Linked DNA regions of Homo sapiens: region 2 is linked to region 1. The links come from fine-mapping of genetic effects on gene expression. A gene starts in region 1. The other region holds a variant in brackets. All regions are shown on one strand. Distances are from middle to middle.

What was found. PIP is the estimated chance that this variant, and not a neighbour inherited with it, causes the effect. A credible set is the group of variants that fine-mapping cannot tell apart.
Region 2: its variant is the best candidate, but not a certain one, in a credible set for the expression of PTGFRN in monocytes (TOPMed, PIP 0.55).

Annotation. Positions count from the first base shown.
Region 1 is chr1:116,906,977-116,912,349 of GRCh38, reverse strand. It overlaps PTGFRN (prostaglandin F2 receptor inhibitor), which reads right to left and starts at 2,434. Exons shown (of 9, transcript NM_020440.4): 1 at 2,098-2,434. The coding sequence starts at 2,146.
Region 2 is chr1:116,975,803-116,981,175 of GRCh38, reverse strand. The region is part of intron 7 of PTGFRN (prostaglandin F2 receptor inhibitor); the gene reads right to left. Among named protein-coding and RNA genes, the nearest start is that of CD101, 23 kb to the left of the region's middle. The variant C/G (reference allele first, on the strand shown) is at 2,851.

The DNA of each region.
Region 1 (5,373 bases):
CAGGCTGAAGCCACACCGAGTGAGATTCTGTGACAGCAGAGTTATCAGGAGGGTCATCAATGGTTCAGAGAACTGTTAGGTGAAAAGGTACTGGCTGGTGACACCACAGAAATTCCCTGTGTAATTCATAGGAGGCATCCAGCCAGGACAGGATATGCTGGAGTACAATCAAGATTTCCCCAAGCTGTGCTTTCCCCACTTCTATTTTGTTTTTGTCAGTCTCTCTTTGCCCCCTCCCCTCTTCTCCCTTCATTATTACTCAAGGGCATTGTTTTCAAAGTTCTACCTCATCCCACCCTCATAACTGGTACCCAGGTTGTTCAGAGAACTGCACAGCTCTAGGGGGAGTTATTCACACAGACTACAAAGTGAACAGCAGCTCCCGAAGTTGTACAGTGCACCATCTGTGCAAACCTAGGCCATGGCCCTGCTTGACCCAGACACATAAAGTCAATTAATGTGTGTGGACTATAACAGCAGTGCGCCACTAACATACAACTTACAAGGGTCCCAGAGTGAAAAGTAAAGATTAAAAGCACTACCACCGGGTGTGGTGGAGCATGCCTGTAATTCCAGCACTTCAGGAGACTGAGGTGGGAGAATGACTTGAGCCCAGGAGTTTGAGGCTTCAGTGAGCTGTGGTTGTGCCATTGCACTCCAGACTGGGTGAAAGACTGAGGCTTTGTTTCAAAAATAAAAATAAAGCACTAGGATCAGGGACTATAGAAAAGATGCCATAAAACTAAGTGGAAGATCTGGAAGCTTTCTGCACATGGGCTGAAGCTGAAGCAATGTGGCTGGACGAGCTCTCTGAGGGAGTCAGTTCAGAAAATCCCTTCAAGGTGAAGGAAGAAAACACAGCAGCCAGCAAGGCTGGTTCATCAGCAGCAGGAGTCATGGGGGTTACAGCAGTGTGGGCCCCGGTGTCCCCAGCAGGGGAGTAGCTATAGAAGGCCTCCTCTGGAACCCTCTGACCATAAGTGCAGAGTAATCATTTGCCCTGTGTGCAGCTGGGACCTGAATGGCACGGACACCGCACATCATGCGCTCTGTGAAAGACTCAGAGCCGCCTTCTCTAGGGGCTTGGAAGAGAACCCCAGGCCAGGTCACAGGAATCATCTTGTCCTGGTTGACACTGACAACAAGGATCCAAGAATATCAAAACATTTAAGAGTCGGCCCTGGGGTACCATGGTGGGCACTTAATAAACATATTTCCGTGGCTGGCTAGGATCACCATGTGGATCTACGTGAAGATGGTGTCTGTGTATGGAGTGAATGGAAAATGGAGAGGGAAAAAACCCACAAAAGATTCCTTGGGTGGGGGGAGGGCGCTGGGCCAAAACCTCACGGGGCACCCAGGGTTTCCGGAGGGTGGAAGACGAGGGGATAGTAAGGGAGGGAAAGTAACAGGTAGAAAAAGTTGGAGAAGCCAGGCTTTTAGGTCTTTGTGTATAAATACGCAGCTAGGCAGCTTCAAGAAAAGCTAAAAGAAAAGACTGAGGCAGAAGATCTAGCCACGACGAAAATGACGGCAGGACTCGCCCGCCGATTTCCATTGTAACGCTCCGGGCCACCCTGTGACCTTCGTGGAAGGAAGTTGGAGGATTCTCTCGCTTCCCTGGAAAGGCAACTCCGCGCGGGTTGGGTGAAGAGCGACCCGGCCGGCGGCGGCTATGGCGGGGCATATCAAAGGCTCACATTTCCGCTCTCGAGCCGAGGACCCGGGCCGGGACCGCAGCACCTTCCGGGCCGGGAGTTCAAGGTGAGCCGGGCTCCCGGCGGCCAACAGGTAGGGAGACCTGGGGGAAAGACGGCCCCGGGCCACTCCCCCCGGCACATGTTGGGGGCGAGGCTCGGCCTGGCGGAGCGGCCACTTGCACCCCGCGCGCGGGGCCCGAGCGGATTCGCGCCAGGCTCCGGGCGGCCCCGCGGCCGCTCCCCGCCGGGCCGAACAACCCGCGCACCCCGGCCGGGTTTCCCGGGAGCAGCCCGGGCACCCTCGGCGCCCCAGGCCGCGCGCTGCAGCCGCGCCCCGCCGAGCCCTCCAGGGCCTCGCCAGTCCCCGTGTGCCCCGCTGAGCCCCGCGCACACTCACCCAACGACAGGAGCGCCAGCAGCAGCGGCCTCGAGGCCAGGCGCCCCATGCTCGCCCGGCGGGAGCGACTCTCCCCCTCCTCCTCCTTCCCCGCCGCCTCTCCTCCTCCTCCTCTTCCAGCTCCGGCTGCTCCAGAGTCGGCGCTCCTCCGCCTGGGCCGCGCGCCTGCTCCGCTCTCCTCGCGAGCCGATAAATCCCAGCGCTGGGGCGTACGTGCGCCCCTGGCTCCGCTCGCTCCCTCCCGCCTCCTTCCCTCCCTCCTCCAGCCGGCCGGGCCCGGGAGCCGGCCCCGCCGATCCGAGTGTGCAGCCCCGACCGCTTCCCGAAAGCAGAAGGGAAGAACCGCAGCGCCCGCCCGCGCCTCCCATCCGGCGCTTTGCCAGCAACAAACACAAACTTTCCCAAGCCCCTCCCCGCTCCAGGTAACGGAGGAAGAGCCGGGGCCACCCGCTTAAAGGCGAGGAGGCGTCGGAGCCCACCCTGCCATCCCCTCTGGGCCCCCACCCCACGAGAAACTTTCCTCCGACCTTTAAAAGTTGGCCTGGGAAAGACTCGTCTGGAAATCCCATCGCTTTAGCCCTATCCCGGGACACCCCGCGTTCCATCACGCTGGAGTCACCCACGCGTGTCTAGTCTATCCTCAGCCAACTCCCCGCTCGTTCGGCCTCTCGTCCTGAGCTAAACACCCCACCAACCAGCCGCTTGGCCTATGCCAAAAATTATGCAGATAGGAGCGAAGGAGCTGAAAGGACTTTTAAAGGCCACGGATTCCAACCTCTACCATACAGAGGCCTTAAGTGTTTCGGTGAGGTGCCCAAGGATTCACAGGGAAGGGGCAAAATCAGAACCCCGCTCTCCTGACTCTGCCCACTCCCCGGTGGCTAGGGTGGGCCTGTCTCCTTCCTTACCCAGCTCCCTCCCTCTCCTCGGCGCCTGTGGCACTGATTAGAACAGCACCCCACAAAGACACCCATTTAAAAAACAAACAAAACCCAAGTGTATTAATAGCTATAGTACTTCATATAGAATGTACTCTTAAGACTTAATATTTATTGCTCTAAGTGGACACCACTGATTGCCAATAAAGACTCATTTTTCCCCCTACAATAGAGTTTTGTGCTTTTGATTTGAATACAAAAGGCCCGACTTGGTTGGGAGAAATGGAGCATTCCTTGCTTGAAACTTAGCAAGCATGATTCAAACACGCAAGGAGCAGCACTGGTGCCCACTGCCCGTCACTGGGCTTTCATTCACATGCAAAACGGATCGCAGATGCTTATGCGGAAACTGCCCACACTGGGGAAGAACACTGCTTTTACTCTCATGCATCCGTCTTTCAACCAACAAATGTTTCTTATTTCCCCACTATCAAATGTGTGATTAGCCAGGTATCTTTGGAAAGAGACTTAAAAATTCATTCCTGGTGGTGCAACGTTATTGTACTTAATGCCACTGAATGGTACACTTAGAAATGTTTAAAATTGCCAGGCCTGGTAACTGGTACTTGTAATGCTAGCTACTCAGAAGGCTGAGGTTGGGGGGGCAGGGGGAGGCGGGGGGCAGGGATGGTGTTGCTTGAGGCCAGGAGTTTTTATTTGTTTTGTCTTCTTTCTTTCTTTCATTTTTGAGACAGGGTCTCAAAATGAGGATCTGTCACCCAGGCCGGAGTGCAGTGGTGCGATCAGGGATCACTGCTGCCTTGACCTCCCAGGCTCAAGCAATCCTCCCACCTCCACCTCTCAAGTAGCTGGAACCACAGATGTGTGCCACCACACTCTCGCTAATTGTTTTTATTTTTTGTAGACACTGGAGTCTCCCTATGTTGGCCAGGCGGGTCTCGAGCTCCTGGGCTCAAGCGATTCTCCCGCCTCGGCCTCCCCAAAGACTGGGATTACAGGTCTGAGCCACTGGGCTGGCACTTTTTCTTCTTTTTCTTTTTTCTTTCTTTTTTTTTTTTATTTGAGGCTAGAAGTTTGAGACCACTCGGGCAACATTGTGAGACACCGTCTCTAAAAAAAAATTTTTAAGGTTAAAATGGTAAATTTTGTGCTATGTACATTTTACACAATAATTTTTTTAAAATTTATTTCTGCCGCCAAGCCTTTCCTGGTTCTGTTCATACACACTGTAATTCCTTTCTCTTCCCCATCCCAATTCTTCCCTAGAATCTCGCAGGGAAGTTTCCCAATTTCATTCAATCAACCTTGAATTCAAGCCTAATGTTAGGCCTTGGAAGGTAGTGGAGCTTCAGAGAAATGTGAGGCCTGGCACCTTCAGAAGCTCAGATTTCAGCTCATCCTCCATCTTTCCTTTTCTTAACCACCCAGAACGCTTAATGTTTGAACCACACATTGTGGCACTTGGTCACATTCAGTTTAGCAAAATGTATACACTACCCCCATCTCTGTCTAATAATGCATGGGCCTAAGAGGCTGTCACATTTTCACCTTGTATCCCACCTTATGGCAGAGTAGATGTTTTAAAAATTCTTTTGTTTAATAAACAATGTGTGTCAGGGACTGTGCCTAGCACATGGTAGGTCCCAATGTATATTTATAGAGTGAATTAATGGCAGACACTGGGCTAGATCCTGGGGGTACAGGGATGAAGCAGACAGTTCTTGCCCTTGAGGAGTCGACATTTTGTGCATTGTGATTGCATATGCAAGGTAGAGTTGTGACACCACAAGGGAGCGGCCAGTCCAGGAGGAGGCTGTCAGAGAAAGCTTCACAGAGGGGATGACTATGCAACGAGTCTTGAAAAATTGGTAGGTCTTTAGCTGTGGAGTGTAAGGATAAGCTTACAATAGATGTTGTGTATTTAATATGATAGAGATTCTTCTCACCTCACCCACCCCCAGGTATTATTAAATTAATGGTGTATCTTACAATCATGGAAATAACAGTGGTTAACCATTGAAATGATGAGAATAAATAAAATTGTCTAGGTAAGGCAGGTAGAATGAGGACTGAAGTGGGTAGCCTGCTGGTGGCTGGCAGTTAAATGTCATGGGAGTTAACCAAAGAGCCACTTTTGTAGCAAAAAATAAGCATAAATTAATAAGTCTAGACTGTTGGTTATAACCACCACACCCTTTGCACCTTCCTGACTACCAATGGATAAAGGAAGAAACACAGCAGACTGGCACAATTTGTTAATTCATGACTCTGGAATCTGATGATGCTTTTACTATGAAAGATATTTATTTACCAGAGTGAGTAACCTTCTATACAGGTAAGGCTTTTGCCCCAACCAGTTGTTCTCCTATCTTAGTCT
Region 2 (5,373 bases), 69 kb before region 1:
TCTTAAGGGTCAAAGAGTGAGAGAGGGACATCAACTGGTCACTAAATGAGGCTAAGCAGAAAAGGAGTAAGACTGATGGGTCCCACAACTCTTAGGCATCCTGTTGGCAATGCTAATATGTAAATGCAAAGAAAAAATTTATAATGATTTCCTAAGAATTCTAACTACAATAGCACCCTCTGGTCACCAGCTACTCCTTTGCTCTGCATGTCTTCATAGCATTAATTGCTGTGATATTATAGAGCACTTTATTTCTTGCCCATGTCCTCATCTAGGTTGCCAAGCTCCATGAGGACAGACTTTGGGCATATTTTTATTATTATTATACTTTAAGTTCTAGGGTACATGTGCACAACGTGCAGGTTTGTTACATATGTATACATGTGCCATGTTGGTGTGCTGCACCCATTAACTCGTCATTTACATTAGGTATATCTCCTAATGCTATCCCTCCCCTCTAACCCGACCCCACGACAGGCCCTGGTGTGTGATGTTCCCCTTCCTGTGTCCAAGTGTTCTCATTGTTCAATTCCCACCTATGAGTGAGAACATGAGGTGTTTGGTTTTTTGTCCTTGTGACAGTTTGCTGAGAATGATGGTTTCCAGCTTCATCCATGTCCCTACAAAGGACATGAACTCATCCTTTTTTATGGCTGCATAGTATTCCATGGTGTATATGTGCCACATTTTCTTAATCTAGTCTATCACTGATGGACATTTGGGTTGGTTCCAAGTCTGCTATTGTGAATAGTGCTGCAATAAACACACATGTGCATGTGTCTTTATAGCAGATTTATTTATAATCCTTTGACCCAGTAATGGGATGGCTGGGTCAAATGGTATTTCTATTTCTAGATCCTTGAGGAATCGCCACACTGTCTTCCACAATGGTTGAACTAGTTTACAGTCTCACCAACAGTGTAAAAGTGTTCCTATTTCTCCACATCCTCTCCAGCACCTGTTGTTCCCTGACTTTTTAATGATTGCCATTCTAACTGGTGTGAGATGGTGTTGCATTGTGGTTTTGATTTGCATTTCTCTGATGGCCAGTGATGATGAGCGTTTTTTCATGTGTCTGTTGGCTGCATAAATGTCTTCTTTTGAGAAGTGTCTGCTCATATCCTTTGCCCACTTTTTGATGGGGTTGTTTTTTTCTTGTAAATTTGAGTTCTTCGTAGAGTCTGGATATTAGCCCTTTGTCAGATGAGTAGACTGCAAAAATTTTCTCCCATTCTGTAGGTTGCCTGTTCACTCTGATGGTAGTTTCTTTTGCTGTGCAGAAGCTCTTTAGTTTAATTAGATCCCATTTGTCTATTTTGGCTTTTGTTGCCATTGCTTTTGGTGTTTTAAACATGAAGTCCTAGCCCATGCCTATGTCCTGAATGGTACTGCCTAGGTTTTCTTCTAGGGTTTTTATGGTTTTAGGTCTAACATTTAAGTCTTTAATCCATCTTGAATTAATTTTTGTATAAGGTGTAAGGAAGGGATCCAGTTTCAGCTTTCTACATATGGCTAGCCAGTTTTCCCAGCACCATTTATTAAATAGGGAATCCTTTCCCCATGTCTTGTTTTTCTCAGGTTTGTCAAAGATCAGATAGTTGTAGATGTGTGGTATTATTTTTGAGGGCTCTGTTCTTTTCCATTGGTCTATATCTCTGTTTTGGTACCAGCACCATGCTGTTTTGGTTACTGCAGCCTTGTAGTATAGTTTGAAGTCAGGCAGCGTGATACCTCCAGCTTTGTTCTTTTGGCTTAGGATTGACTTGGCAATGCGGGCTCTTTTTTGGTGCCATATGAACTTTAAAGTAGTTTTTTCCAATTCTGTGAAGAAAGCCATTGGTAGCTTGATGGGGATGGCATTGAATCTATAAATTACCTTGGGCAGTATGGCCATTTTCATGATATTGATTCTTCCTATCCATGAGGATGGAATGTTCTTCCATTTGTTTCTGTCCTGTTTTATTTTGTTGAGCAGTGGTTTGCAGTTCTCCTTGAAGAGGTCCTTCACATCCCTTGTAAGTTGGATTCCTAGGTATTTTATTCTCTTTGAAGCAACTGTGAATGGGAGTTCACTCATGATTTGGCTCTCTGTTTGTCTGTTATTGGTGTGTAAGAATGCTTGTGATTTTTGCACATTGATTTTGTATCCTGAGACTTTGCTGAAGTTGCTTATCAGCTTAAGATTTTGGGCTGAGACGATGGGGTTTTCTAAATATACAATCATGTCATCTGCAAACAGGGACAATTTGACTTCCTCTTTTCCTAATTGAATACCCTTTATTTCTTTCTCCTGCCTGATTGCCCTGGCCAGAACTTCCAACAATATGTTGAATAGGAGTGGTGAGAGAGGGTATCCCTGTCTTGTGCCAGTTTTCAAAGGGAATGCTTCCAGTTTTTGCCCATTCAGTATGATATTAGCTGTGGGTTTGTCATAAATAGTTCTTATTATTTTGAGATACGTCCCATCAATACCTAATTTATTGAGAGTTTTTAGCATGAAGGACTGTTGAATTTTGTCAAAGGCCTTTTCTGCATCTATTGAGATAATCATGTGGTTTTTGTCTTTGGTTCTGTTTATATGCTGGATTACATTTATTGATTTGCATATGTTGAACCAGCCTTGCATCCCAGGGATGAAGCCCATTTGATCATGGTGTATAAGCCTTTTGATGTGCTGCTGGATTCGGTTTGCCAGTATTTTATTGAGGATTTTTGCATCGATGTTCATCAGGGATATTGGTCTAAAATTCTCTTTTTTTGTTGTGTCTCTGCCAGGCTTTGGTATCAGGATGATGCTGGCCTCATAAAATGAGTTAGGGAGGATTCCCTCTTTTTCTATTGATTGGAATA[C/G]TTTCAGAAGGAATGGTACCAGCTCCTCCTTGTACCTTGGTAGAATTCGGCTGTGAATCCGTCTGCTCCTGGACTTTTTTTGGTTGGTAGGCTATTAATTATTGCCTCAACTTCAGAGCCTGTTATTGGTCTATTCAGGGATTCCGCTTCTTCCTGGTTTAGTCTTGGGAGGGTGTATGTGTCCAGGAATTCATCCATTTCTTCTAGATTTTCTAGTTTATTTGCGTAGAGGTATTTATAGTATTCTCTGATGGTAGTTTGTATTTCTGTGGGATCAGTGGTGATATCCCCTTTATCATTTTTTATTGCATCTATTTGATTCTTCTCTCTTTTCTTCTTTATTAGTCTTGCTAGTGGTCTATCTATTTTGTTGATCTTTTCAAAAAACCAGCTCCTGGATTCATTGATTTTTTTGAAGGGTTTTTTGTGTCTCTATCTCCTTCAGCTCCGCTCTGATCTTAGTTATTTCTTGCCTTCTGCTAGCTTTTGAATTTATTTGCTCTTGCTTCCCTAGTTCTTTTAATTGTGATGTTAGGGTGTCAATTTTAGATCTTTCCTGCTTTCTCTTGTGGGCATTTAGTGCTATAAATTTCCCTCTACACACTGCTTTGAATGTGTCCCAGAGATTCTGGTATGTTGTGTCTTTGTTCTCATTGGTTTCAAAGAACATCTTTATTTCTGTCTTCATTTCATTATGTACCCAGTAGTCATTCAGGAGCAGGTTGTTCAGTTTCCATGTAGTTGAGCGATTTTGAGTGAGTTTCTTAACCTGAGTTCTAGTCTGATTGCAGTGTGGTCTGAGAGATTGTTATAATTTCTGTTCTTTTACATTTGCTGAGGAGTGCTTTACTTCCAACTATTTTGGAAGTAAATTTTGGAATAAGTGCGATGTGTTGCTGAGAAGAATGTATATTCTGTTGATTTGGGGTGGAGAGTTCTGTAGATGTCTATTAGGTCCACTTGGTGCAGAGCTGAGTTCAATTCCTGGACATCCTTGTTAACTTTCTGTCTCATGGATTTGTCTAATGCTGACAGTGGGGTGTTAAAGTCTCCCATTATTATTGTGTGGAGTCTTAGTCTGTTTGTAGGTCTCTAAGGACTTGTTTTATGAATCTAGGTGCTCCTGTATTGGGTGCATATATATTTAGGATAGTTAGTTCTTCTTGTTGAATTGATCCCTTTACCATTATGTAATGGCCTTCTTTGTCTCTTTTGATCTTTGTTGGTTTAAAGTCTGTTTTATCAGAGACTAGGATTGCAACCCCTGCCTTTTTTTGTTTCCATTTGCTTGGTAGAATTTCCTCCATCCCTTTATTTTGAGCCTATGTGTGTCTCTGCACGCGAGATGGGTCTCCTGAATATAGCACACTGATGGGTCTTGAGTCTTTATCCAATTTGCCAGTCTGTGTCTTTTAATTGGAGCATTTAGCCCATTTACATTTAAGGTTAATATTGTTATGTGTGAATTTGATCCTGTCATTATGATGTTAGCTAGTTATTTTGCTCGTTACTTGATATAGTTTCTTCCTAGCATCAATGGTCTTTACAATTTGGCATGTTTTTGCAGTGGCTGGTACCGGCTGATCCTTTCCATGTTTAGTGCTTCCTTCAGGAGCTCTTGTAGGGCAGGCCTGGTGGTGACAAAATCTCTCAGCATTTGCTTGTCTGTAAAGGATTTTATTTCTTCTTCACTTCTGAAGCTTAGTTTGGCTGGATATGAAATTCTGGGTTGAAAATGCTTTTCTTTAAGAATGTTAAATATTGGCCCCGACTCTCTTCTGGCTTGTAGAGTTTCTGCCAAGAGATCCGCTGTTAATCTGATGGGCTTCCCTTTGTGGGTAACCCAACCTTTCTCTCTGGCAGCCCTTAACATTTTTTCCTTCATTTCAACTTTGGTGAATCTGACAGTTTTGTGTCTTGGAGTTCCTCTTCTCGAGGAGTATCTTTGTGGCGTTCTCTGTATTTCCTGAAGTTGAATGTTGGCCTGCCTTGCTAGGTTGGGGAAGTTCTACTGGACAATATCCTGCAGAGTGTTTTCCAACTTGGTTCCATTCTCCCCATCACTTTCAGGTACACCAATCAGACACAGATTTGGTCTTTTCACATAGTCCCATATTTCTTGGAGGCTTTGTTCATTTCTTTTTACTCTTTTTTCTCTAAACTTCTCTTCTCGCTTCATTTCATTCGTTTGATCTTCAATCACTGATACCCTTTCTTCCAGTTGACCGAATCAGCTACTAAAGCTTATGCATTTGTCACGTAGTTCTCATGCCATGGTTTTCAGCTCCATAAGGTCATTTAAGGACTTCTCTACACTGGTTATTCTATTTAGCCATTCGTCTAATCTTTTTTCAACGTTTTTAGCTTCTTTGCGATGGATTCGAACTTCCTCCTTTAGCTCAGAGAAGTTTGATCATCTGAAGCCTTCTTCTCTCAACTTGTCAAAATCATTCTCGGTCCAGCTTTGTTCCGTTGCTGGAGAAGAGCTGCGTTCCTTTGGAGGGGGAGAGGTGCTCTGATTTT